Linked DNA regions of Homo sapiens: regions 1 and 2 are each linked to region 3. Evidence: fine-mapped expression QTL. A gene starts in region 3. Each other region holds a variant in brackets. All regions are shown on one strand. Distances are from middle to middle. Region 1 holds the start of GNG13 (G protein subunit gamma 13). Region 2 holds the start of RPUSD1 (RNA pseudouridine synthase domain containing 1). Region 3 holds the start of MSLN (mesothelin).

The links. PIP is the estimated chance that this variant, and not a neighbour inherited with it, causes the effect.
Region 1: its variant is fine-mapped to the expression of MSLN in T cells (TOPMed, PIP 0.90).
Region 2: its variant is fine-mapped to the expression of MSLN in iPS cells (iPSCORE, PIP 0.95).

What each region holds. Positions count from the first base shown.
Region 1 is chr16:798,151-806,318 of GRCh38, reverse strand. It overlaps GNG13 (G protein subunit gamma 13), which reads left to right and starts at 5,585. Exons shown (of 3, transcript NM_016541.3): 1 at 5,585-5,653; 2 at 7,208-7,339; 3 at 7,495-8,168. The coding sequence starts at 7,242. The coding sequence ends at 7,600. RefSeq lists enhancers at 1,797-2,340, 2,885-3,429, 4,247-4,796, 4,797-5,346, 5,347-5,896. The variant C/T (reference allele first, on the strand shown) is at 4,203.
Region 2 is chr16:781,538-789,696 of GRCh38, reverse strand. It overlaps RPUSD1 (RNA pseudouridine synthase domain containing 1), which reads left to right and starts at 1,316. Exons shown (of 6, transcript NM_058192.3): 1 at 1,316-1,441; 2 at 1,953-2,141; 3 at 2,220-2,343; 4 at 2,518-2,620; 5 at 2,769-2,870; 6 at 3,320-4,723. The coding sequence starts at 1,960. The coding sequence ends at 3,747. It overlaps CHTF18 (chromosome transmission fidelity factor 18), which reads right to left and starts at 1,077. Exons shown (of 22, transcript NM_022092.3): 1 at 922-1,077; 2 at 572-766; 3 at 337-487; 4 at 1-150. The coding sequence starts at 1,012. It also overlaps the pseudogene MSLNL. RefSeq lists silencers at 784-843, 1,024-1,483, 1,504-1,593 and an enhancer at 2,043-2,850. The variant G/A (reference allele first, on the strand shown) is at 4,399.
Region 3 is chr16:756,764-764,931 of GRCh38, reverse strand. It overlaps MSLN (mesothelin), which reads right to left and starts at 4,198. Exons shown (of 18, transcript NM_005823.6): 1 at 4,111-4,198; 2 at 3,758-3,859; 3 at 2,167-2,260; 4 at 1,656-1,699; 5 at 1,241-1,290; 6 at 789-909; 7 at 206-285; 8 at 1-25. The coding sequence starts at 2,251. RefSeq lists enhancers at 4,242-4,260, 4,426-4,951 and promoters at 4,242-4,260, 3,782-4,262, 3,768-5,617.

The sequences.
Region 1 (8,168 bases), 41 kb before region 3:
GGATTACAGGTGTAAGCCGCTACTTCCTGTCGTCTACTCTCTGTATTTTGCAAATAAAACGTTTGCAGGTCATGTCAAACATCAAGTGATTGATCTGTGGGGACGCAGGCGCCTTCCTCAGAGCCCCTCCCTCCCCTGCTTCTGCCCCAGCCAGCCTTGTGCATCTGCAGATACCGAGGCTGCTCAGGGGCGCTCTGCTGTCCACTGAGTGCGAGGAGTCTCAGGCGCTGCAGGGACCCGGGTGCTGCCACACGGGTGGACAGCCCATGGTGGCCGGTTGGAGGCCTCTAGCACAGACCCTGCACACCTGGAGGCTTCTGCTGGCAAAGCCCTGGGACCTAAGACCAGATGCCCAGGGCTATGGCCCACTTGGGATGACACACAGGGTCCCCAGATGTGTGCATCTACCCCAGTGACCCCCTTTTTGGGATGCTTGTGTCTGTTCTGGGGCTGCTCTGGGCCCCAGGGGTTGGGGGTGGGCGGTGTCCCCTTGTGAGAAGGGGCCCGCATGGCAGGAGTTCCCTGTGGGCGCAGGCCAGGCCCTGGAACGGTCTGTACCTCGCACACTGCATTTGCGAGCGGCTGCGCTGTTCCTGAGCTGGTTGGGAGCTCAGAAATGCAGGCGGGTGTCTTCCTGCCCCATGGGGTGGTAGAGATAGCCAGGAAGTGAGTGCCGGCCGCCCAGGGCCCCAGGCTTATTTCCCGAGACGGAGCTTGGCCACCTGTGGTCTGGTCTCCACGTAGCAGGATGCACGTTCGAGGCCTGTGACCCATGGGGTGGTAAGTGGGGTGTGCAGCTGCCCCACCCGTGTTGGGGTGACCTGGCTGTCCCCAGCAGCCACCTCTGCACGGGGGCTTCTGGTCAGTTCGGGCCATCCTAGCATCTGGCTAGGCTCTGCCAAACCCATTTGCCAATCAGATTTGGAAGACTGGACATTCTGTGGTTTCCCTAGCCCCGGAAGCAGCAGCAGGGCCATCCCCTGCACTGGGGGTCCCAGGATCCCTGATGGGCTGTGGCGTGACCCATCCAGGGTCTTAGAGGCCAACCTGGATTCACAGCATGTCCTGTGGTTAGAGGTACAGGCGGGTCCTTGGGCCCTGATGCACTTACAGTGGTGGCCACCCAGCCCGGGATGTTTGAATGAAGCCGTGGGGACAGCCAGAGGCCAGAACACACCGTCTTAACTTCTAGGTGTCCTTAGGCAAAATCACGGGACCTTTGTCATCCCTTTTTTTTTTTGAGACAAGGTCTCCCTGTTGTGAGCTGTGGCATGATCACAGTTCACTGCAGCCTCCACCTTCCAGGCTCAAGGGATCCTCTAGCCTCAGCTTCCCAAAGTGCTGGAATGACAGGTGTGAGCCACTGCACCCAGCCTAGTCATCCCAAAGCAAGTGTCCGTCTGTGTGGGCAGGGACTCTCCCAAAGCCAGAAGCCCTGTCAGGCTGCTGCACGGCTCTGGCCACCACCCTGCGGATCACGGGCTCCTAGGAAAGCCGCCCCAGGGACCACGACACACCGGAGGGTGGCCTGGGGCAGAAGGCGCGACTCACTCTCCCTTCCCTTCCCCCACAGACCTTGGAAAGGTCTCGCCTCAAGGCCTCCCACCACCCTCGGCTGAGCAAATGTGTCTCTCTTTTGGAAAATCTGCGACTTCTGAGCTGGTACTCTTGGAAGAGCGTAATTTGGTGGAGCCGGCAGTGGGGGCCTCTGAACCCAGCAGGCTGTTATTTTGCCCGTCGGTTCCCCTTAAACACACTCAAGTTCCGAATGGGGGCAGCACCCCATCCCCGGGAGCCCAGCTGGCATTGCTCCTGGTGACACACTGACCTCCAGTCCTCAGGCCAGGAGCTAGGGCGTCCGAGCCTGTGGGGATCCACCGCCCAGCCTGCTTCTGTCCTTCCAGGACCTCCTGCCTCAGGCCATGCTTCTGGTTAGCAAAGACATACCTAGCTTTTCAGGAGACGGGCGTCTCTTAAGTAGGAAACCTCCGGCGACTGTAACCACGCACTGACCTGCAGCTGTTCAGAGTAAACCGAGCTAAGGCAGGCACGCTACCCCGAGGCTGCAGCGCGAGCGTGGCTACGGCCAAGCCCCCAGCAGGCCCCTGACTACACAATGGAGGTCAGGTGTGGATGACAGCCACGCACCCGGGACTCCCTTGAAGTTGTTTTTTTTTTTTATTATACTTTAAGTTTTAGGGTACATGTGCACAACGTGCAGCTTTGTTACATATGTATACATGTGCCATGTTGGTGTGCTGCACCCATTTACTCGTCTTTTAACATCAGGTATATCCCCTAATGCTATCCCTCCCCCCTCCCCCCACCCCATCCCTTGAAGTTTTCCGTTGTGTTTTCTGTGCTTGGGTTTAAGAGCTTCAATTGTTTTTGAAAATCACTTTGAAACTTTCACAGATGACAGAAAAGTCGTTGCCGTGAGCTCCAGTTAACTAGGCGGAGTGAGTTTCTTTGGTGAGGAGCTGCCTTCGTTATTTCCCCAGGCCCCACGCTTGCAGTTTTGTTTGCAGGGACTGAGGGAAGTCAGCGTGTCCTCCACACACATTCACCCACCACCCCCGGGCTGCTTGGGTCCTGCAGGCCACAGGGTCCCCCTAGGACAGCCAGAGCCCTCTGCAGAGCCTAGGGCACAGGCGGGTGGAGGATGGGACTGGTCCTTGGTCCCCAGCTCAGCACTTTATCCCTCTGTTCCCCGGAGAGTTGACTGGTGTCGGGGGCTGTCTCCCCCACCCATTCGGAGTTGAGGCCGCAGCGAGAGGCCAGTCCCGGGAGACCCTGCTGCAGCTTCCCGCTAGGAAGGGATCAGAGCCCCCTATGCCAGTGTGGTACCAAGCCCTAAAGTCAGCGTGAAGGGCCTCCGGCCTCCTGTGCTTCCCCCACGGTCTTGGTTGGCTGTAAATGGGAGGTCTCGATGCTCCTGCCCCAAGCCAGGCCCAGCGGCACAGCCCCACGCCTGGTGGGTCAAGAGCCCCTCGGGCCAGGGACAGCTATTTCTAGGGCAGCGGAAAGAGCCCTGCGTGTTCTCAGCCAGCGGCCCAATTAGTGGCCTAATTTCAGAAAGGAGCCCCTGGCCTCGGGAGGCTGTGGTCACTCCGTTGGGGGACTGGCTGCCATTCCTCCCAATGAGAATCGCTGAAGCCGGGTCCAGCTGTAGGGCCGGGGGAGGCAGATTCCAGACCCGAGGCTGACTCCAGCTCAAGGCGTCAGCGCCCGGATGTGTTTGGGGGTTTCCGAGTGCAGCCTTGGTAGGAAGGTCGAAGTCAGTCTTCAAGACCCCCGTCTTACTGAGGATGGGACCTCACAGCCCCTCACACGGGAGCAGAGGTTACTGCACCCACCCAGGTCAGCACAGGACCTGCTTCTGATTCTGGGGGTCCACACGACACCGAGGCTGACTGGTGCCCCCCCAGCGACCAGAAACGCCACAGAAGTGGGGTGAGAGACGGGACCCACATCACATGCCTGGGACATGGGCCTGCAGCAGACCCAAAACCCTCAGCTTGCCCTGGCCCTGCCCCCACTTCCCTCAACCTCCTCCTGCCCTTGGCCTTGGGGGTCACCCAGACCCTGCTCAGGTAGGCAGGCCGGGTCCACCATGCAGGTACACACAGCCACTTCTCTGCTGAGATGCTGAGGACTGGCAGGACCTGCCCGGACCACAGGGCAGTGCTCACTCCAGGACGTGACCCCACGGCCCGTCTCACCTGTCCTGGTGGCCCACACCACACTCCAACCTGTGTCCTGATTCACTGGGGGCACTGGCCGTGTTGGACAGAGCTCAGGCACCCTCAGGGACCTTACTGGGTCCAGTGAATTGACCAAAAGCCAGAACCTGGAGCCTTGGCGACCCCATTAGGAGACCTCCTAGGTCCTTCCAGATGAGCAGATGCAAAGGCCGCTTGGGGTCCTGAGAGTGGCCACAGAACCCCCAGCTCTCACAACTCAGCTGCGGACCTCAGGGTGTTCCCCCGCCTGGCCCTGGCTCCAAGCCACCTGCTGTCCCAGGGAACGTGGGGGACATGCCCTGGGGTCCCCCCCGCCTTGCCTGCATCCTGGGGTGGCACACACCCCTCCCCTAACAGCCATTCCACTCTCTGGCGCCCAAAGTGGTGCCCCCAGCCACAGGGAGAGCCCTCAGCAGCCCAGAAACTAAGGTGCATCCGAAGTCACAGCACCAGGGGGCA[C/T]AGGCAGGGCAGGGCGGGCACTGGGATCAGGGAGACGTCTAGCCCCCACCATGCCAAGAGGGGCAACCATCTGCCCTGAGGAGGAGGCCTCGTGCCCTGGGCTTTAAGCTGCCCCACCCCACCCCCAAATCCATAATAAAAATAATCCCTTCCCTAATGTGCCCCAGTTCCAGAGGCGCCTCTGATCCAGCCGACACACATCAGGGCGGGAGGTGCAGGTGGCCCCGATTCACGGAGTCACACTGGCAGGGAGTCCTGCTGAGTGACTTCAGGGACCTGAGCGCCTGAGAGGGACAGGGCCCACCTCTCCCCGACAACCCCTGCAGAGGTCTGGGCCACCCCAGGCAGGCCGGGCGGTTCCCTGTGACACTGGGGAAGGCAGAGTGACCTGCTCACAGGCCCCTGGCCCTGCCAGCACCCACCGAGGGCCTGGCCCACGCTTCCCCGGGGGTGGCCCAGCTTCTGCAGGGACTGTTTGGGGAGCTTGGCCCTGTGCCCCCAGAGGCTGCTGTTGCTGCCTGGGCGCCCCCACCTAGGATGCAGCCTGGTATGTACGTCACCTGCTGGTACATAGGGCACAGCTCCCACAGGAGCCCAAGGGGTACACCCAAGGGCAGGGTGGGAGGAGACACGGGGAAACGTGTCAGAGGAAAAGGGGCCAGTCTCAGCTCTGCAGGCTGACAGGTGCGGAGCCCCAAAGGGAAGCCCTCTCCCCAGAGCCTTGAGGTCACACAACCCGAGCCCAAGTGCTGCAGCTGGGGGCACCTCTCCCGAGGCAGCGTGCCCCAGAGCACCCACAGTGGACCGGTGTTGGGGACGCCTCAGGCCGCCACTCTCAGCTCAGATCAGACTGAAAAGCACGGCACTCTCCTGCCCTCGGGAGCTGCCCCGTGCCGGCCACTGGTCTGGGAACAGGGGATCGGGCTGGAGCAGGGAGCTCCACAGAGCCCCGGGGCCCCTAGCAGTAAGAGGCTCACATCCCAGGGTGAGCCACATGGCCCACACAGGATGCCTCTGTCAGGGGGGCACAGCTGAGTGTCACCTGAACCCTGCAGGCTGCAGAGGCTTCAGAGGGCAAAGGGTCCCAGCCCCATCCCCACTCCTCCCGGCTGGCCCAGGACACTGGAGGGGGAACCCACCCCCTCAAGTGGAAGGAGACCTCTCCACCAGGGCCCAAGCTGGCCCCTCAGGGAAAATGGACCAGCCCCACACTGGCCCCTGGCTGCATGTCCATCCGCTGGGTGAGCCCAGGGGAGGGGGCAGCACAGGCTATCTCTGGGGTCAGCCCAGCCCTGAGGAGGGTGTGGGGGCGGCGCCAGGGCCCAGGTGGCGGGAGGGGCGGGGCACAGCCAGGGCTCTGCCTGGCGGACTCCCGGAACATCACTTGGCCCTCGCTCTCACTCGCGGTCGCCTGGCCGTTGTCATTGTCCCTCCGCTGTCACCTTTTCAAGGTAGGTCCGATGAACAGGCGCCCGGGGCTAGGGAGGGCCCGGAGGCCCCTCGACTCTCAGCTGGCCCAGGTCAGTCCCCTGGGCTCACCCTAACTCCCGGGGCGAGGGCAGCTGCCCCGCAGGCAGCAAAACCCAACCCGAGCCGGTGCTGCAGGCAGGGAGGCGGCTCTCGCGGTGCGGGGGAGCTGTGTCCATCTGAGCGCCGTGCGCCGCCTGCAGTGCCCACCGAGTCCCGTGGCTGGGGGCGTCCACGGGGTGCACGGGGTGGGTGGCCAGGCTTGGCGGCAGCTGCGCGAAGGTAGGGCTGGGCAGCAAGGACTGGGCTGTGGGCGGGGCGCCAACACCCCGGGCCTGGGAGGACCCGCACGCAGCTAGTCCTGCGCCCACGGGGCTGAGTGTAGGGTCTCCGAGAAAAGGCCTGCACCGGGGATGGGGGCGGGTAGGGGTGCTGGAACTCCAGAGTCTCCGGGAGGGAATCCTCTGCATGACCCTGATCACTCCCCCAGAAACCTGCCCCCGCTCGCTCCCCGGCCTCCCACCCCACTACGGGCAGACCCTCTGCTGGCTGCTGGGAGTCTGCCCAATTCACCACCGGGACCCCACCAGCCTCAGGCCCTGGGCCCCTCCCTAGGTGGCCGGTGCAGCTGCACGACCAAAGGATGGGGAGACTGTTGGGCCAGGAGCCCCCTTCACAGCCAGAGGCAGGCTCCCCGAAACTTGACGCCAACCCCCACCCACCCTCCCAAGGTTCAGCCCTGTCTCCCAACCTTGGGGACGGGGGCCAGAGTTGGGACGGAGTGAGGGACTCCCTGGGCCCCTGGAGTGGGTAGGGGGAGAGGCAGGGGGCAACCCACCCCCACTTGCCTCGAACTTGTGGCAGTTCTGAGGGGTGTCAACCTGTGGCTTTCCCAGGCTGGCCACAAGCAGAAAGCACGCAGGTAACGTGTGTGGTTCCCAGACACACTGGGGACCCAGGGGCCACCCACAGCCCATATCCCAGACTCGGGTAGTATAGCCTGAGCCCCCAAGATCCTGAGCACACACCCCACCTGCCAGAGAAGCAAACTGCAGCAGAACATTCCTGTCCAGGAGTCCTGGCTCTGGACTGGGCTCTGCCATGCAAAGCAAAGGGGCACACAGCGGGGCGGGGCAGGGGCCACCTCCTGAGGACCTCGCCCCACACCTCACACCGTGGTCTGGGTCAGCCTGCGTGGGCCTCAGTGGGAGGGTAGGAGCTGGGGGCCTGCCGTGCTGAGCACCCTTTCTCCTGCCTGCAAGGGATCTTCGTAAGGTGTGGGGGCCTATGGGGGAGTAGCTGAGGATGTAAAGTTTCTTGCAGTTAATTAGTCCCAGTGCAGGAGGCGGGAGCTGGGGCCTTGTGGGAACTCGCTCTGTGCCCTGCACCCTAGCAACGCCTAGGGGACTGGCCCAGGCAGTGGTGTGGACTCTCCCCGCTTCATCCTGCGGGGTTCAGCTCAGGCCTGCGGGGAGCAGCGGGGGTGGGGACTACAGGCTGGTGGCCTCGGCCCTGTGGCTTCCTCCTGTGCCCTCCAGCCCCAGGCTGGCTGCTTCAGAAGCCCCTGACCCCATGGAGGAGTGGGACGTGCCACAGATGAAGAAAGAGGTGGAGAGCCTCAAGTACCAGCTGGCCTTCCAGCGGGAGATGGCGTCCAAGACCATCCCCGAGTGAGTGCCCCACCTGCCTGATTTGCCTCTCATTTGTCTGCCCTGCGCTGGCTGCTCATTTCCATAGCCACGACCACCGCCGCCGACAGGCAGGTGCAGCAGGAGGCCCTCGGGGGTCAGGTGCCACCACTCACCTGCCACCCGCCCACCCGCAGGCTGCTGAAGTGGATCGAGGACGGGATCCCCAAGGACCCCTTCCTGAACCCCGACCTGATGAAGAACAACCCATGGGTGGAAAAGGGCAAATGCACCATCCTGTGAGCCCCGCACCCGGCCCCTCTCACACCATCCTGTGAGACCACGCCCGGCCCCACTCCCACCATCTTGTAAGACTGTGCCCAGCCCCACTCACTCCATCCTGTGAGTCCCACTCCCAGCCCCACTCCCACCATCCTGTGAGCCCATGCCCGGCCCCACTCACACCAACCTGTGAGCCCCACTCCCGGCCCCACTCACTCCATCTTGTAAGACTATGCCCAGCCCCATTCACTCCATCCTGTGAGTCCCACTCCCAGCCCCACTCCCACCATCCTGTGAGCCCCACTTCCAGCCCCACTCCCACCATCCTGTGAGCCCCACTCCCAGCCCCACTCCCACCATCCTGTGAGCCCCACTCCCGGCCCCACTCACTCCATCCTGTGAGCCCCACTCCCAGCCCCACTCACACCAACCTGTGAGCCCCACTCCCGGCCCCACTCACAACATCTTGTAAGACTGTGCCCGGCCCCATTCACTCCATCCTGTGAGACCACGCCCGGCCCCACTCACTCTATCCTGTGAGACCACGCCTGGCCCCACTCCCACCATCCTGTGAGCCCCACTCCTGGCC
Region 2 (8,159 bases), 25 kb before region 3:
GGGTCAGCACGCAGCACCAGATAAGCCCGGACGCCCTCCGTGGATGTCACGTGGACGTAGTCCTCCAAGATGGGGGGCCGCCTCAGGACGGGATTGCGGGCAGCTGGTGAGGCCCGTGTGAGACCCACGTCGGCAGCAGCTTCTGAGACTCTGGAGAGAGACCGGGGCTCAGTGGCAGAAACTCAAGCGTGGGGTCACCCTTGGATATGGGTGTCCGAGACTGCTCTCAGCCATGGAACCCTCCCCACCCCCCAGGCCTCATCCAGGGCACGGGATGGGCTCCATCTGAGTCCCACTGGACAGATGGGATGGGACGCCCATGTCCAAGCCACACACCCGTGGCCCCAAAGCTCTGCGAGGTCCTCAGGGCTCGGCGGCGGGGTGATGTCCGTCGGCGAGGAGTCGGGAGGGGGCGGCTCCTCCATCTCCTCCGATCTGAAGTTCAGCCTCTTGACCACCTGCAGCCTAGGCCGTTTGATCCTGGGGGCTGGGGGAGACACATGCAGGGAACCAGAGGCCTCCTCAGCCTCGCGCCCACTCCGGAGGCCCTGGGGCAATGCCGCCAACCTACCGTGGGGCAGGGACCCGGCCGGCTGCAGGTCGGCGTCCACCTGCCTCTTCCTGGCGCCGCCCTGGCTGCTGCCCACAGATGCGGCTGGGGCGGGACTGGAGGCCGCGTCCCCTCTGGCAAGGGCCTCCTCGAACGTCCGCGGGGGTCGGCCCGCGGTGAACAGGGGGACCCCGGAGGGCGACGGAGTCGACGCCCCTGCTGGGAGAGGAGATTGTCAGCGGCCGCCCCGAGACAGCAGATCCCGCCAGCGGCGACGTGGAGGCCCCTTCGGCCCCCGGCACGCCCTCCCCGAGGTCGCCACTGTCCCGGCTTTCGCAGCTCCTCCCCAACGGCCGGGGGCCGCGCCCCACCTTCCAGCTCTGCCAGCACCTCCAGCTCGGCCGCGAACTGGTTGTGGAAATCATCCTCGACGCCGCACAGCTCCTGCTCGTAGTCCTCCATACCGTCCGCGAGCCCGAGCTCCCGCTCCGAACCTCCCGCGCCGCCGCCGCCGTCGCGCACTGCCCGCCCCGAGCGTGCCGGGCGCCGCCAATCAGCAGCCGGCGTGCCCGGCGGCGCGCGCCATTGGTTGGCGTGGCGGAGGCGGGGCTGCGCGAGGGGTGGGCGGGGCGAGTTCCTGCTCCGCAGCCCCCGCGTCCTGTCCTGGGGAGCTCGCCATTGGCCGCCGCAGCCGCCCTTCCGCGGCGGGGGCGGGCCGGGGGCGGGCCGGGGGGGGGGGCGGGGCTGCGCGCGCAGCGGTGCAGGGCGGAAGCGCTGCCAGGCGTCCGGAGCGGAGCTTCCAGGGTCTCTGGGTCGCCAGCGCGCGGGCGCGCGGCTGGAGCCGGCGCCGGGCACGGCATCGGGGGCCTGGACTGCACGGCCCGGCAGCAGGTTGGTCTTGGCGTGGGCGTGGGCGCGGGAGGGGCTCGGAGCCAGGGTCGGCCTGCCCACCGGGCCTGTGCGGGGCGCGGGTCTGCGCGGACTGCGGGGAGCGAGGAGGCCCCAGCCCTAACCCGCGCTGCGGGCAGACCTGGCTGCCGGGCCTGGTAGTGCTGCAGCCCCTCCCCGCCCCCACCGTCGGGCAGAGGCATTCACGTGCATCCCCTGGAGGGGAGGGTCTGTGGGGAGGATCTGTGGGGCAGGTTTGGAACGGGCTCTTTCTCCAGGCTTAGGTCAGGCAGGGCCCTTCAGGTCAGCCCGGAGCAGGCTGACTCCTTGACTCCCCAGCTGACGCCCTGGGGACTGATCTCGGGGACTGAGGATGCAGGTGCACAGTAGGGCTGCGGACCCGGCTCGGTGGCTTCGCACCGGAGCCCGGGTGGGGCGGTGCGGGTACCTCTGTATGCTGGGCTGGGGGCGCACCACGTGCTCACAGCACACGCACCCACGCGTGGCTCGGCAGGCCGGCCATGGAGCCAGGCAGCGTGGAGAACCTGTCCATCGTGTACCGGAGCCGCGACTTCCTGGTGGTCAACAAGCACTGGGACGTTCGCATTGACAGCAAGGCGTGGCGGGAGACTCTGACCCTGCAGAAGCAGCTGCGGTACCGCTTTCCCGAGCTGGCCGACCCTGACACCTGCTACGGGTTCAGGTAGGGGGGGCGGCCGGAGCCCCACGGTGGCGTCTGTGGAGGAAAGTGGCTCAGACTCTGGACTCTGTCCCACTCCAGGTTCTGCCACCAGCTGGATTTCTCCACCAGCGGGGCGCTGTGCGTGGCCCTAAACAAGGCAGCCGCCGGCAGCGCGTACAGGTGCTTCAAGGAGCGGCGCGTGACCAAGGCTTACCTGGCATTGGTAAGACCTGGTCAGTCCTGGGGTGGGGCGTGGGGACTCAGGATTCCCACCCCACTTGGGCAGCCCTGGCTCAGAGCCTCCCACCACGCTCTACGTGGTTGCTTGGTGTTAGGTGGGCTCCCCGGCAGCACTGGGCTGCCCCGTGAACTGCGTGCGATTCTCCCTCTCCTGCAGCTGCGGGGGCACATCCAGGAGAGCCGGGTAACCATCAGCCATGCCATTGGCAGGAACAGCACGGAGGGCCGGGCCCACACCATGTGCATCGAGGGCTCGCAGGGTGTGGCAGGCAGGGACCCACCGGGCGGGCATCGTGGGTTGGGGTGGGCCTGGGCAGGCAGGGACCCACCGGGCGGGCATCGTGCGTTGGGGTGGGCCTGGGCCCCGGGTCAGTCCCACTAACCTCACACCTGCCTTCTGCGCCCCAGGTTGTGAGAACCCAAAGCCAAGCCTCACAGATCTCGTGGTTCTGGAACACGGGCTGTACGCAGGCGATCCTGTCTCCAAAGTGCTGCTGAAGCCGCTCACGGGTGTGTCTGGGGTGGGCGGTGTCCTGGTGGTGACAGAAGGGAAACTGAGGCACAGGGCCACGAAGCTTATGTTGGGCCACCCTGAGCATCAGGGCAGAGCTGGCAACAAGCACTCCTGCGTTCTTAACTCCACGCCCTGCAGCCTCTCAGCTTCTCACCTGACACAGGGTCCCTGCTGGCTCCTGACTGATTCCTTGGGGGTCTGGCTGGCCTAGATTCTCCAGGACCGAGCACCACCCTGGCCCTGTCCTCACCAGTGGTGACCTGAACACAATCTTCTGTCCTAAATACTGTCATCCTCACTCATGGCAGGGGACAGGGAGAGTTCCACCCCAAGAGGCTGCTTCAAGACTGCAGCGGGGTCATGACGGGAGGTGGGTCCTGGTCAGGGAGATAGGTGTGGATCGGCCCCGCTCCCAGCTTGATCCGGCACCGCCCTCATCCCGCAGGCCGGACACACCAGCTGCGCGTGCACTGCAGTGCCCTGGGCCACCCCGTGGTGGGCGACCTGACCTACGGAGAAGTCTCGGGCCGGGAGGACCGGCCGTTCAGAATGATGCTGCACGCTTTCTACCTGCGCATCCCCACGGACACCGAGTGTGTGGAGGTCTGCACGCCTGACCCCTTCCTGCCCTCCCTGGATGCCTGCTGGAGCCCCCACACACTGCTGCAGTCGCTGGACCAGCTCGTGCAGGCCTTACGGGCCACCCCCGACCCTGACCCCGAGGATAGGGGCCCCAGGCCAGGCAGCCCCTCCGCACTCCTGCCTGGGCCCGGCCGGCCTCCTCCACCCCCAACCAAGCCCCCTGAGACTGAGGCACAGCGGGGCCCCTGCCTGCAGTGGCTGTCGGAGTGGACGCTGGAACCGGACAGCTGAGAGCCGTGGGGCTGGGGCAGGGGGTGTCAGCTGCACAGCGGGACTCTAGGGAGATGGGCGAGCGAGCGTCTGCTCACTGGCTCTGGGGCCTCGAGGTGCCAGGCAGCATCAGGCCCACTGGGTTGCCCCGGCCAGGCCTGCGAGGAAGGGCTGAGGTGGGGCCGGCAGGGGGCGCCAGGCAGCCGTGATCACAGGTGACGACCGCACCGCGGCCGTGGGACTGATGCGGGATCCCGAGGGCCTTCCTGCCCACATGCCCCGGGAGAAACCGAGGCCCCTCCCTCCTCCTGGAACAGCTTCCGGCTCTCAAGCGTCACCCCAGGGGCGTCAGTTTTACGGACTCAAGGTCACCTCAGGAAGAGGCAGGGCCAGGTTTTGGGATAGGCTTTGCCTCCAGGATGGGCTGCTCCTGGGCCTGGTGAGCTACTGCCCCCAACCTACCCTCTAGAGGGGCTGGGAAGGGCCGTTCTGGGCTCACCTGGCCTGGGAGACCCATCTGGTCCCTGCGTCCTCTGCCCCTCACTGCTCTGTGCAGATCCTGTCGCCCTCAGCTGCCTCCTCCCGAGACCTAATGGTCCCTGCTGGGCTCGAGTCTGCAGGCCCGGCTGCGTGTGCCTTGGCCTCACTGTACCAGTGGTTCCCTCTCTGCCC[G/A]GATTCTGAGCTCAGTGTGGTGTTTGGTGCACAGGGGTTGGTCAGGGGCCATGGCCAAGGCCCTGCCACGCACGCCCATCCCTCAGATCCACTGTGAGCACCAACCTGCTGCAGTCTCTTGGGCCCCTGCTGGCAGCTCTGCCACGTCACCGCCTGCCTGGCTCCCACACAGCCATGCATTGTCACTCTGCCTCCGGGACCCCAGCTTGGGAGCTGTGGGTCTGCCAGGTCCCACCTCCTCTGTCCCCCATGCCACAACCTGGGCTCCTGGCTACAGCAGGGCTCCAGGGACTCCAAATAAATGTTCAGTGACTGGCTCCAAGGATGACCGTGAACGTGTCCGAAGTGGGGCTTCCAAGGGACAGGTCTGGCCACCCAGACCTTTCCTAGCTCTCTTCCCTGCCCTGAGGCCCCAGCAGGACCCAGGACAGACGCAGTGGTCCAGGCTCCTATCGGCCTCTCCTGCAGACAGCAAGCACCGTGCAGCTTTGGCCTGGGCACAGACCCTGGGCCGGCCCCGGACAACCCCCAGCCCCCACAACCAGAGCCATGGGAATACCCAGCTGGTCCAGCCAGGGATCTTCGTAGAGCCCAAGTCTCAGAGCTCTGTGGAAGGGGCATCTCATGGGCCAGCACTTGGTCTCAGGTCCGCCTGGCCCCTGCCTGCCACTGTCCAGCTCCGGGGCCAGCCCTGAAACCCTGGTTACGACCCCAGCGGTGACAGCAGCAGGGCCTGGACCAGAGGCAGCTGCCACCGTGCCCTCAGCCGAGATGCGGGTTCCAGACCCGGAGTCCCCACCGGGGCCCAGACCGGAGGCAGCTGCCACCGTGTCCTCAGCCGAGACGCGGGTTCCAGACCCGGAGTCCCCACCGGGGCCCGACTGGAGGCAGCTGCCACCGTGCCCTCAGCCGAGACGTGGGTTCCAGCCCCAGAGTCCCTGAGGTGAGGCCACAGGCCCTGGACTCACTGCTGCTGCTCCCATGACTCAGTTTCCTCATCTGTAAAGGAAGGGGCTGGTGCAGATCCGAAGGGACCGCATAACCCTCAAGTAGCACCAGTCGGCCACCCCAACAGAGTGCGGCAGCAAAGCCCTCCCGGCCAGCACGCCCATCACTCTCGAGGCTCCTCCCTGGCCAGCCCCGGGACGTGTCCACCCTCGGGCACCTGGCCCCGGCCTCCCCTCCCCCAGGGCTGGCTTATCTCCAGGCCTCCTCCTGGTCCTTGTCTGAATCAGCCCAAGTCAGGGCCAGGCACGCCTCCCCTCTCTGGCTGGGACAGTCTCCCCACCCTGCCCCACGGGGCCCCACCCCTCTAGACTGGGGGCTGCCGACCTCACTGCCCCAACAGCAGCTGTTGGAGCCGCTGTGTCCAGCTGGGCTGGCCCAGCTGACAGCCGGCCAAGGGGCCTTCAAGGCCTGACCTGAGCCGGACCCTCATCAACAAGCCAGGCCTGAGCGCCGTCCCTCATGGTGCCCGTGCCTCGTTGTCAGCCTAGAGCTCTCAAAGGGGCACCTGGGTTCCTGTGGGCTTGTGCAGGCCTGGGGAGCAGTCACCTACCAGTTCCCCTGCCGTCAGCCTCCAGAAGACCCAGATCGGGGGTCAAGTCTCAGCTTGGCCATGGAGCTGGCTTGTTGGGCACCCATAGCATAGCTGTGGTGCAGGGGGTGGTGGTTCCACAGCTGAACCTGAGCTGCAGGTCCTGCCAAGCAGGGGCTGAGTCTCTCCCAAGATGAGAGCTGGGGTAGGTGGGCCAGGCCAGGGCTCAGCCTGGGTCACCCAGCACCCTGTCCCAGTGAGGGGAGAAGCCTGGCAGGTGGGCTGGGAAGTCCCTCCTGTGTCTTCTCCTGCCCTGGCCTGCCTGGTGGAGCCCGACAGTGCATACTTGGGTGCTCTTGCCTGCCCACCTCTGAGCTGCGGCACCCACGGAATGGCCGCAGCCGTCACCATTCCTGGCCCCCGCATTGGGTACTCGTCTGCCTGATGTCCCCGCAGAGGCACACATGGTGGATCTGTGTCCGTGCTCCCGGGCACACAGACCAGGAGGCCCGAGAGGCACCTGTGCACACGCAGGCACCAGCAAACACGGCAGACTCAGGTGCAGGCGCACGACATGACCCCTGGGGCACAGACGCTGCAGAGCAGGGCCCCAGTGGGTGGGGAGGGGTGTGAGCTGGGCAGCTGCCAGCCGTGAGCTCAGCCTTTGCTCTAGGGGAAGGGAGTAGGTGCCCATTGTGCCTGAGGTCCCCAGGGGCTGACGCGGTGCATCGCCTGGCACAGCCCGGGCCTCCCCCACAGGACTGCCTGGCGGGCGTCACCGTGGGAGTGGGACTGGGCGGGGCGAGGCAGTCTCATGCCGCCTGCCAGGCCAGGCATGGAGGTGAGCGGGGACCCCGGCATCCCCGCCCTGCACCGCCTCTGCACCCGGGCGCTCAGTGGTAGCGGCTGACGCACTTGGCGGGCTGGGATTGCGTCTGGATCACCTGGTCCACAACTCCCTGCCAGGAGCAGCCACCCCACAGCCTGGGCAGCACCTCCCTCCACCACACCCAGGGTTTCTGCTCAGGTGAGAAACGCTGGCGGGAGCCACCACCAGCCCACCCGCAGGGCCGGTCCCGGACCTGTGGCTGGGCCTGAACCTCTGCATTTGCCTCTGCATGGGGCAGCCTCCCTGTCTCCCTCCTGGGCCACAGTCAGGAGGCCCAGAGGTGCCCAAAAGCCATCAGGCTGGCTCCAGGAGGAGGCAGTGACCCACAGCAGTACCGGACTCCTCTAGGGTCCCTGGCCTTGCAGCTTCCATTTCCAGCATGGTTGAGGCTACCCCAGCTGCCACTGGGGGCTGGATGTCAGCGAAAGAGCCCAACAGCTGGGGCTCAAAGAGGGAAAGGGAGCTGCCAGGGCTGCCGGGTGTGGGGATGAAGCCAGGGCTGCACGAGGCTGCCTGGGGGACTCGCTGTTTGTTGGAAATCTGTTCATTGGAGACCCAGCAGCCCATGGGTCCCCTAGGCCCCGACCTGCAATAAGAAAGGCCCCAGGGTTTCACCCGGCTCCCGCTCCCTGCTCCTGCCTTTTACTGTTTATGGGATCCTTTCCCCTCGAAGGTGGGAGAGGCGCAGCTCTGGCCCCGCTGCCCTGGGTGAACCTAGACTGCACCCTCCCTCTCCACACCCCAGGGGGTGGGAGGCAGTGCGGGGCCAACCTGTGTGTCTCACCTGTGTCTCGCCTCTGTCACGCCTCTCCAGCTAGTCCTGGACCCACTGCCCTTGGCCCCAGCACCTTCCTGCCCTGGGACGTCTCAGCCAGGATGACCAGTGCACGCCGCCGCACAGACGTGGGCCCCAGAGTGGGTGAGACGAGACCTCCATGCAGAAAGGGGGCCTCCAGAGTGCCAGGCCCTCATGGCAAAGCCATCCCGTAGACATGGGAGTGCCCAGGGCCCTGGCCACCCCATTCTCCTGAGCGAGGGTCTGTCCCAAGCCAAGGAAGGAGAAGGTGGGCCCTGCCCAGCAGCAGCAGGACGGGGGTCGGGCTGCCAGGGCACTGTGAGCCCAGCCCTCCCCAGCAGGCATGGGGGTCCTGGGAGGGTGAGGCAGGGCAGGCAAGTTTGGCTAGAGGGGGCCACTCCTGGCCCAGGCAGCTGGACATGGCTTCTGGGGAAACGGTGTGGGGGTGAGTGGAGACAGCGTTCTCTCGGGCAGTCCGGCCACAGGCAGGGCTGGGCTCTGAGGCCAGGGTTGCCCAATGCCTCACCCTCCCTGAGAGG
Region 3 (8,168 bases):
CTGGGGCCCCGAGAACGCATCTGGGCTGTGAAGAGAGGGTGCTGGGGACAGGCCGCACTGATCACACCCGTCCCCACCCTGAGAGGCAGCCCGGCCGGCCTCCACATCTCTGCTGTGGCCTGGGATCCGAGGCAAGGGGCAGGGGGTTGGGGGCTGAGGGCTGGCGGCAAAAGCCGGGGGGGTGGGTTCAGGGGGCAGGGCCTACTTGAGGAATAGCAGCAGGTCCAATGGGAGGGCGTCCAGGTCCTCGGGGGGCTCAGAGAGCCGGTGAGCCAGACAGCGCAGCTGCAGGGGCAGGGAGTCCAGCACAGAGCGTTTCGAGCCGCCACTCACATGGTGGGCCAGGGTCGCCTGGCCAGTCTGCCCACCACAACACACCCCTGCCCTGGCCACGAGAATCTGTGGAAGTGGATCTCTGGCCGCCTGCAGCGCTGCCCTGGGGGATGGGGGCTCCCGTGCCTGGCTCCGCTCCCCTTCCCCAGATCTCACCCACTCCCCCGAAAAAGATTCACCCTTGGGGCAGAGCCTGGAGGGCTGCCCACGGCGCTCCAGGAGGGGGCCCAGCACACAGCGTCATATCAGACTTGCTCCTGGGGAGCCAGCCCCTGACGTGGACAGGCACCCCAGTGGTCAGCTTGGGTGGCCAGAGGAACTCTGGGAAGAACTGGCCGGGGAGAGATGGCAGCAGGGACAGAGGGGACCGTGGTGGCAAGGTGGGCACTGCAGAGCTGCCTGTGAATTCCTCAGCCCCAGCTGTGCCCACCTGCCTCAGCCCAACTGAGACTGACCTGCTCTGTTGAGAGCTTGACATTCTTCTGTGCCAAGGCCACAGCCAGCTCCCGGACACGCTCCGTGCTCAGGCCGGACACCTCCGCACACGGGAAGCCAAGGAGTTGGCGAGGGGAGAGGCTGCAGGAAGGGTCGGGCTGGGCACCCACGATCGCCCCTCCCCTGCAATGTCCACCCAGTGCTCCCCAAGCCCCACAGCCCCACCTCTCCCCAAAGGACCCTGGTGCTCCCTGCAGACCTCCCCCCAAGACCAGGTGACGCCCTCAAGGGCCGGGAGTTGCCATCACCTGAGGGGTGTCAGTCCCTCCCGCAGTCCTGAGCCCAGTCAGATCTGAGGTGGAGCAGAGGAGGAAGGGGGAGGGGATGCTGGGGGATGGGGTGCCCTGCCCACCCTCAGTCCCGAGGGCCCCTCGAGCCTCACCCTTGAGGACTGTGAGGACCCCAGACCCACCTGGAAATGTTAGGTGGGTTGGCCAGGACTCCGTCCAGGGGCGCAGCCTCCTGGGGACACAGGGCCTGCTGAACATGGCTCAGACCAGCTCTCTGGAGCAGGAGTTCCCAGGTCCCGCTACCCCTGGGCCAGGTACTCCCCGAGTTCAGCTACTTCCCAGGCCTGGCTGTGTCTCAGACCCATGGGCTTGGCTGCTTCTCATCCATCTACTTCCCAGACCCAGCTGCAATTTCAGCTCTGCCGCTCCCTGGACCTGGCTGCTCCCAGGCCAGTCACATGCAGGTCCAGGTGCCCCTTTGCAAGCAAGGACCGTGGAAACTGGCAAGCACCGTGGATACGTGACAGAGAGAACACAGCATGGCACCCCCACCTGGGACCTGAAGACCCTCCCCTGTTTCCCCAGAGGGGACCTTACCTGCCCTGTCTCTCCAGCCAGGGTCCTCGAGGGCTGCACCCATCCTAAAGGGGCAGAGGGGACAGCTTGGGGGAGGGGGCGGGCCTCTGGGCTGTGCCCTGACCCAGGGGAGGAAGGAGGCAGAGCCTGGCCGCCCCCACAGCCAGCCCTGTGCACACCCCAAAGAGAAGCCAGTGGCTCAGGCCCATGTACCCCGTGACATCACAGTCCCCCAGGCACAGGGGTCGGGACTCCACCAGGGAGCCCGGCCTTCCACATCTTTCCCTGAGACCCGGCTGCTTGGCCGGTCAGACCACCCATCCCACAGACATCCCCACTGTGTCCTGAGCCCCATCACTCCCTGGCTGGATCTCCAGCTCCAGTCACCTCTGGGGGCAGAGACTGCTGCTGAGACGTGGCCACCACAGGCACTCCAGGGAGAAGGCAGGGGCAGGCAAAGCCTTGCTGGGGGCCTGGCCCCCAAGGCCCCTGGGCCGTCCCCACCTCACCAGCAGCCCCATCAAGTACGCACCGAGGCTGAAGAGCAGGAACAGGAGGCTGCCGAGGGCGGGGGTCCCACAGGACCCCAACAGGGGTCGAGCCGTTGGCAAGGCCATGGTCTGTGTCTGTGGAGGGCAGTGACTCAGGATGGGACCCCCTGCTCCCACCCCACGCCTCTGTCCTGGGCCAGCCTGGGGCCACATGGGCCCAGGAGGGGCTCCCAGAGCAAACTTCTGTGGTACCTGCAGCTTGTGTCCGCACCCTGGCCCTGCCCTCCAGCCACTGAGCCCTCTGTCCCCTGGACTGGCTCCTCCTGTCCAGGGGAGGGGCTGGGTCTGAGATCCCGGTCCCCAGCCCAGACAGCCCAGGAGTCAGTTGGCGCCCACCCCTCTCCCAGAAGGGCAGGGCAGTGTGAGCAGAGCTTAGATCAAGCAACCGGGGCCGCCGCCCACTTGGGCTGGCCTGAGTCTCCCCACTCTCGCACAGGAGGACGAGCAGCCCCGTCGCCTGGATGTGGCTCCCTTCCCTCTCCCCTGCCCTCAGCTGCAGGTGCCTGGGCTTTGTGAACACCCCAGGCTCTGCCAGGCAGACAACACCCTTGAGGCAGGAGGGGCACTGCGGGCACAGAGGCCACCGCCCCTTCCCACCCAGCAGCGTCTTTTTGGGCCACTTGGCCTCTCTGAGCCCATTTTCAGGTGCAGTCCAGGTGGGGCGGGGCTGGGCCAGTGAGCAGCCTGGGGAGCCCCTTGTACTCTCTAGGGTGGGGCCTGTGGGCCACTGTGGGGTGGGGAAGTGGGTGGGGAGACCCTCCCTGAACAAGAATTGTCCTCCTGGGGTAGGGGTGGGGCTCGCAGAAGAGGGAACTGGCTTCTACACTCACCCCTTTCAGGGAGGCCACCATGGCGGAGTAGAATAGAGCTGCCTCCTGAAAACCTTGGCCCAGGCCCGGTGGGTCCACCCACAGCTCAGAAATGGGGGTCACACGCTCATGCTCAGCAGCCCCATCCACAGGCAGAGCCTGCCTGGTCGGCCCGGCCACTGGGGAATGTCGCGGGGAGGCACACAGCCTCCGGGTGACAGACTCTACTCCCCCAGGCCCCAGAGGAAGTGGGGAGGCCCCTGAGGCTCTGAACACCTTGAGAAGGTGGAAGAAAACAGACCCCCCCCACAGCCAGAAAATGGGCAGTGAGTGGGACCCCCAGCCCTTGGGGTGCGTGAAGCCAGGAGGGAAACGTGGCCATCGGATCACAGGGGACCTGGGCACTCCCCACCCCAGCTCCATGTGACCCAAGGACCTCAGCACCTGGGATGGGGGCTCCCCGAGAGCCCGGCCCTTCCTGCTCTGAGGGGCCTCTGCAGGCCATGGGGGGCCCTGGAATCTGCATCCTTTACACCTGCAGGAGAGCTGGGCTGGGGCCGTGGAGGCACCTGCACTGCCTTAGGACTGCCGCTTCCAAACAAATGGGTCTGCGTGTGCCCTGCGGGGTGAAATCTGCGTCCAGCTGAAGCCTGACCATCGCTCTGGTGCTGGAAGCCCGGCCTGGGGCGGCCCCAGTTCTCCAGATGGAAGGTGCAGATTCCATCCACACCACAACAGGAAGAGCTCAAAGGTTGTTACTTACAGATCCCAGGGAGGGAGGCACCGTGGGTCCACCGGTAGCTCTCTGTCCGCGCGTCACAGCAGACGGGAGTGGCCGGCCAGGCAGAAAGAGGAGTGCGTGGCGCTGGCAGCGCCCATGAGGAACAGGACAGCCCCTTTCAGATCGCGGGCCAATGCCCACACGTGGGCCTCTAAAGGGCGATGTGAAAGGGGAAGCCCAGCCCCCAGGCCTCTGAGGCCTTCTGCGCAGTTGGGTAGGGAGCTTTACCCCTAACGCCCGGGCAGCCCCCAGCCCTCCAGGTCCCGAGTGGCCCCTCCCAGGTCTCAGTGGGCCCTGCCCAGGGTAACTCTGATGTGCAGGGTGATTGGCCACACCTGAGCCTCCTCTGCCTCGGTTTCCTCAATTGGGAAGTGGGGGTGGAGAGCCTGGCAGCCTCCCGGGCCGTCAAAGGGAACAAATGACGGCTTTGCCCGGGGCAGCAGGGAGTGGTGGCGCCTCACGCCCCAGGAATGTGTGGGTGGAGACCCCGCACAGGAGCCTTGGACAGGCAGCGGGCCAGGCCTGGGGGAGGAGGGATGCCCAGGAAGGCAAAGCTGCCCTCGGTGGGCGAGGGTGGGAGCCCGGGCCCAGGTTTCACGGCTGCCCTGGGTGGGTGTGGGGCATGTGTAGGAGCCCGGGCCCAGGTTTCATGGCTTCCCTGGGTGGGTGTGGGGCGTGGGTGGGAGCCTGGGCCCAGGTTTCACGGGATCCCACTCTGATTCTCAGGTGCTGAAACCCAGGGAGCACTGGCCCCCCCAGTCGCAGGTCAGCAGGCTCTGGATGGTGGCCACGCAGCCCAGACAGGACTCCCGGGAGCACAAGCCTGACCCCCAGTGCAGTGTGGGCCTCGCAAGGCTGTGAGCCGTCCGTCTCAGGGCTGTGGGAGCACACAGGTCAGGGAGGCAGGACGGGGCCCAGCTCCAGGCACACGCACACCCCTTTCTCGCAGGGTCGACTGGAACAGAGCTGCCCCCGGGCGCTCTCTGGCCTGGCGAAGTGGGAGCTGTCTTCCCTACGCATCTGGGCTGGCTGCCTGCTGCTGATGGAAGAGCTGCTCCTCCTGACCTGGGGCCACAGAAGCCCCCTCCCTGCCCCTGAAACCCCTCCCAGCATGTCGTGAGCTCTTATCCCCAGTACGGAATCTGCCTCCGCTATGAACACCTGCAAAGGTTTGTGTGCTGAACGGAGGTGTGCGCGGCGGTCATCTCTGGTCTCTCCACAGAGTGGGTTTTCTATCGTGACTCGCGGTGGAATCGGACCTTCACGCACACAGAATTCAGCAAGGCTGCCAGGTGTAAGCGTCAACTTACAAATGTCAAGAAGGGATTAAGGGCCTTTTAAAAACTCCCTTCCGCAGAGAACAACTGAAAAATTCCAGACACTCTTGTAGCAAACCAGTTACCCAAGGGCTCTGGGGAGGGGACAGAAGGCAGCCGGCTTGGGCGGGAACTCACAGGTAAAGGGAGAGGCCAGCTCCGAGTGGCGTTCCCTTTGTGTCCACACAGCTTTGCTCTGAAGGAGCCGCAGGTTGGCTGCGGGGCTGTGAAGTGGCCCAGGCTGCCACGGACACCCACAACTTTCCCGGCCAAAGGCCAAAGGAAACCAAGGAAGGAGCCCAGAATACTCAGGGCCCAGAGCTCGAGGAGAGGCCTGAGCCGGAGGAGCCAAGGAGGCGCCCACGTGCCCAGCTGAGCCCTGAACTGAAGGAGCCGAGGAGGGTCCAGGAAGAGCTCGGAGGGCCCCGTAGACACGGCTGAGCCCTGAACAGGAGCCTCAGAGGGGCCCATGTGCCCGGCTAAGCTCTGAACCAGCCGACTGCAAGCTGCGGACAATGATGAAAACGCGCTGTGGCCAGCCTGGGCTCACCCTTCAGCCAGCACCGTGGGAGGCCGATGCGGGAGGGTCCGTTGAGGCCAGAAGTTCAAGACCAGCCTGGGCAACGTAGTGACACCTCATCTCTATAAAGAATCTTTAAATGAGGCCCTGTGTGGTGGCGCACGCCTGTCATCCCAGCACTTTGGTAGGCCGAGGTGGGCGGATCACCTGAGGTCAGGAGTTCGAGACCAGCCTGGCCAACATGGAGGAACCCCGTTTCTACTAAAAATATGAAAATTAACTGGGCGTGGTGGCACATGCCTGTAATCCTAGTTACTCAGGAGGCTGAGGCAGAAGAATCACTTGAACCCAGGAGGTAGGGGTTGCAGTGAGTCGAGATCACGCCACTGCACTCCAGCCTGGGCAACAGAGCAAGACCCTGTCTCAAAAAAAAAAAAAAAAAAAAAAAAAATGCCGGGCGCAGTGACTCACGCCTGTAATCCCAGCACTTTTGGAGGCCGAGGCAGGCAGATCATGAGGTCAGGAGATCGAGACCATCTTGGCTAACACGGTGAAACCCCGTCTCTACTAAAAATACAAAAAATTAGCCGGGCGTGGTGGCGGGCGCCTGTAGTCCCAGCTACTCGGGAGGCTGAGGCAGGAGAATGGCGTGAACCCGGGAGGCAGAGCTTACAGTGAGCCGAGATGGCACCACTGCACTCCAGCCTGGGCAACAGAGCGAGACTCCATCTCAAAAAAAAAAAAAAAAAAAAAAAAGCCCAGGCGTGGTGGCTCACGCCTGTAATCCCAGCACTTTGGGAGGCCGAGGTGGATCATGAGGTCAAGAGATCAAGACCATCCTGGCCAACATGATGAAACCCCGTCTCTACTGAAAAAAAAAAGAAAGAAAGAAAGAAGAAAAATAAGAATATCTGTGTGATTTTTTTTTTTTCTGAGACGGAGTCTTGCTCTGTCGCCCAGGCTGGAGTGCAGTGGCGCGATCTCCGCTCACTGCAACCTCCGCCTCCCAGGTTCATGCCATTCTCCTGCCTCGGCCTCCTGAGTAGCTGGAACTACAAGCGCCCGCCACCATGCCTGGCTTTTTTTTTTAAGTAGAGATGGAGTTTCACCGTGTTAGCTGGGATGGTCTCGATCTCCTGACCTCGTGATCCGCCCACCTCGGCCTCCCAAAGTGCTGGGATTACAGGCATGAGCCACCATGCCCGGCCATATCTATGTGTCTATGTGATTGAAAGAACGTAGATTCCTACCTCATATTATATGCAAAATTTACTCAAAGCCAACCATAGGCCTGAGTATAAAGGCTGAAACTATAAAACCATTAGAAGGAAATTCAAGAGGAAGTGTTTGTGGGCTTGGAACAGGCAAAGACCTGTTAGATGGAAGAAAGAAGGCAGAAACCATGACTGACACTGCTGCTCTTTGAATGATGCCGTGAAGAAAATAAAGAGCCAAGCCACAGAATAAGAGAAATATTTGCATGACATATACCCAGAATTGACAAGGAACATTTGCAGTTCAATGATAAGACAGACAATCCCGTAAAACCCAGGCCATATGTGCTGCAACGCGGCTGAGCCTGGAAACACGGACACGTCGTACGAGTCCCTTTAGATGAAACGTCCAGAGTGGGTCAATTTAGAGAGACAGGAAGTAGATGAGTGGTTTCGTAAGACCCGCGGGAGGGAGACCAGTCAGGAGGACTGACTTCTAAGGGGTATGGAGTTTCTTTCCTTTTCTTTTTTGAGATGAGTCTCCCTCTGTCGCTCAGGATGGAGTGCAGTGGCTCGATCTCGGCTCACTGCAAGCTCCGCCTCCCAGGTTCAAGCGATTCTTCTGCCTCAGCCACCGGAGTAGCTGGGATTACAGGCGCCCGCCACCACGCCCGGCTAATTTTTGTATTTTTAGTAGAGACGGGGTTTCACCATGTTGGCCAGGCTGGTCTCAAACTCCTGACCTCAAGTGATCAGCCCGCCTTGGCCTCCCAAAGTGCTGGGATTACAGGCGTGTGCCACCACGCCCAGCTAATTTTTGTATTTTTAGTAGAGACGGGGTTTCACCATGTTGATCAGACTGGTCTTGAACTCCTGACCTCAGGCGATCCGCCCACCTTGACCTCCCAATGCTAGGATTTCAGGCTGCAGCCACCACACTGGGCCCGAACGGTACTTCCAATGGGTAAATGGGTGAGCTGTATAGTGTGGATTATCTCTCAGTAAAGCTGTTATTTAAAAATGGGCAAAAGATTTAAACAGACACTGCACACACACACAAAAAGATACAAAAGCCAGGTGTGATGGTGCATGCCTGTAGTCCCAGCACTTTAGGCTGAGGTGGGAGGATCACTTGACCCAGGAGTTTGAGGCTGCAGCGAGCTATGACCACGCCACTGCACGCCAACCTGGGTGACATAATGGGACCCCATCTCTGCAAAAAATTTAAAAACTAGCCAGGCATGGTGACGCAGGCCTGAAGTCCCATCTACTTGGGAGGAGGAGGTGGGAGGATAGCTTGAGGCCAGTTTGAGGCTGCAGTGAGCTATAACCACACCCTGGGT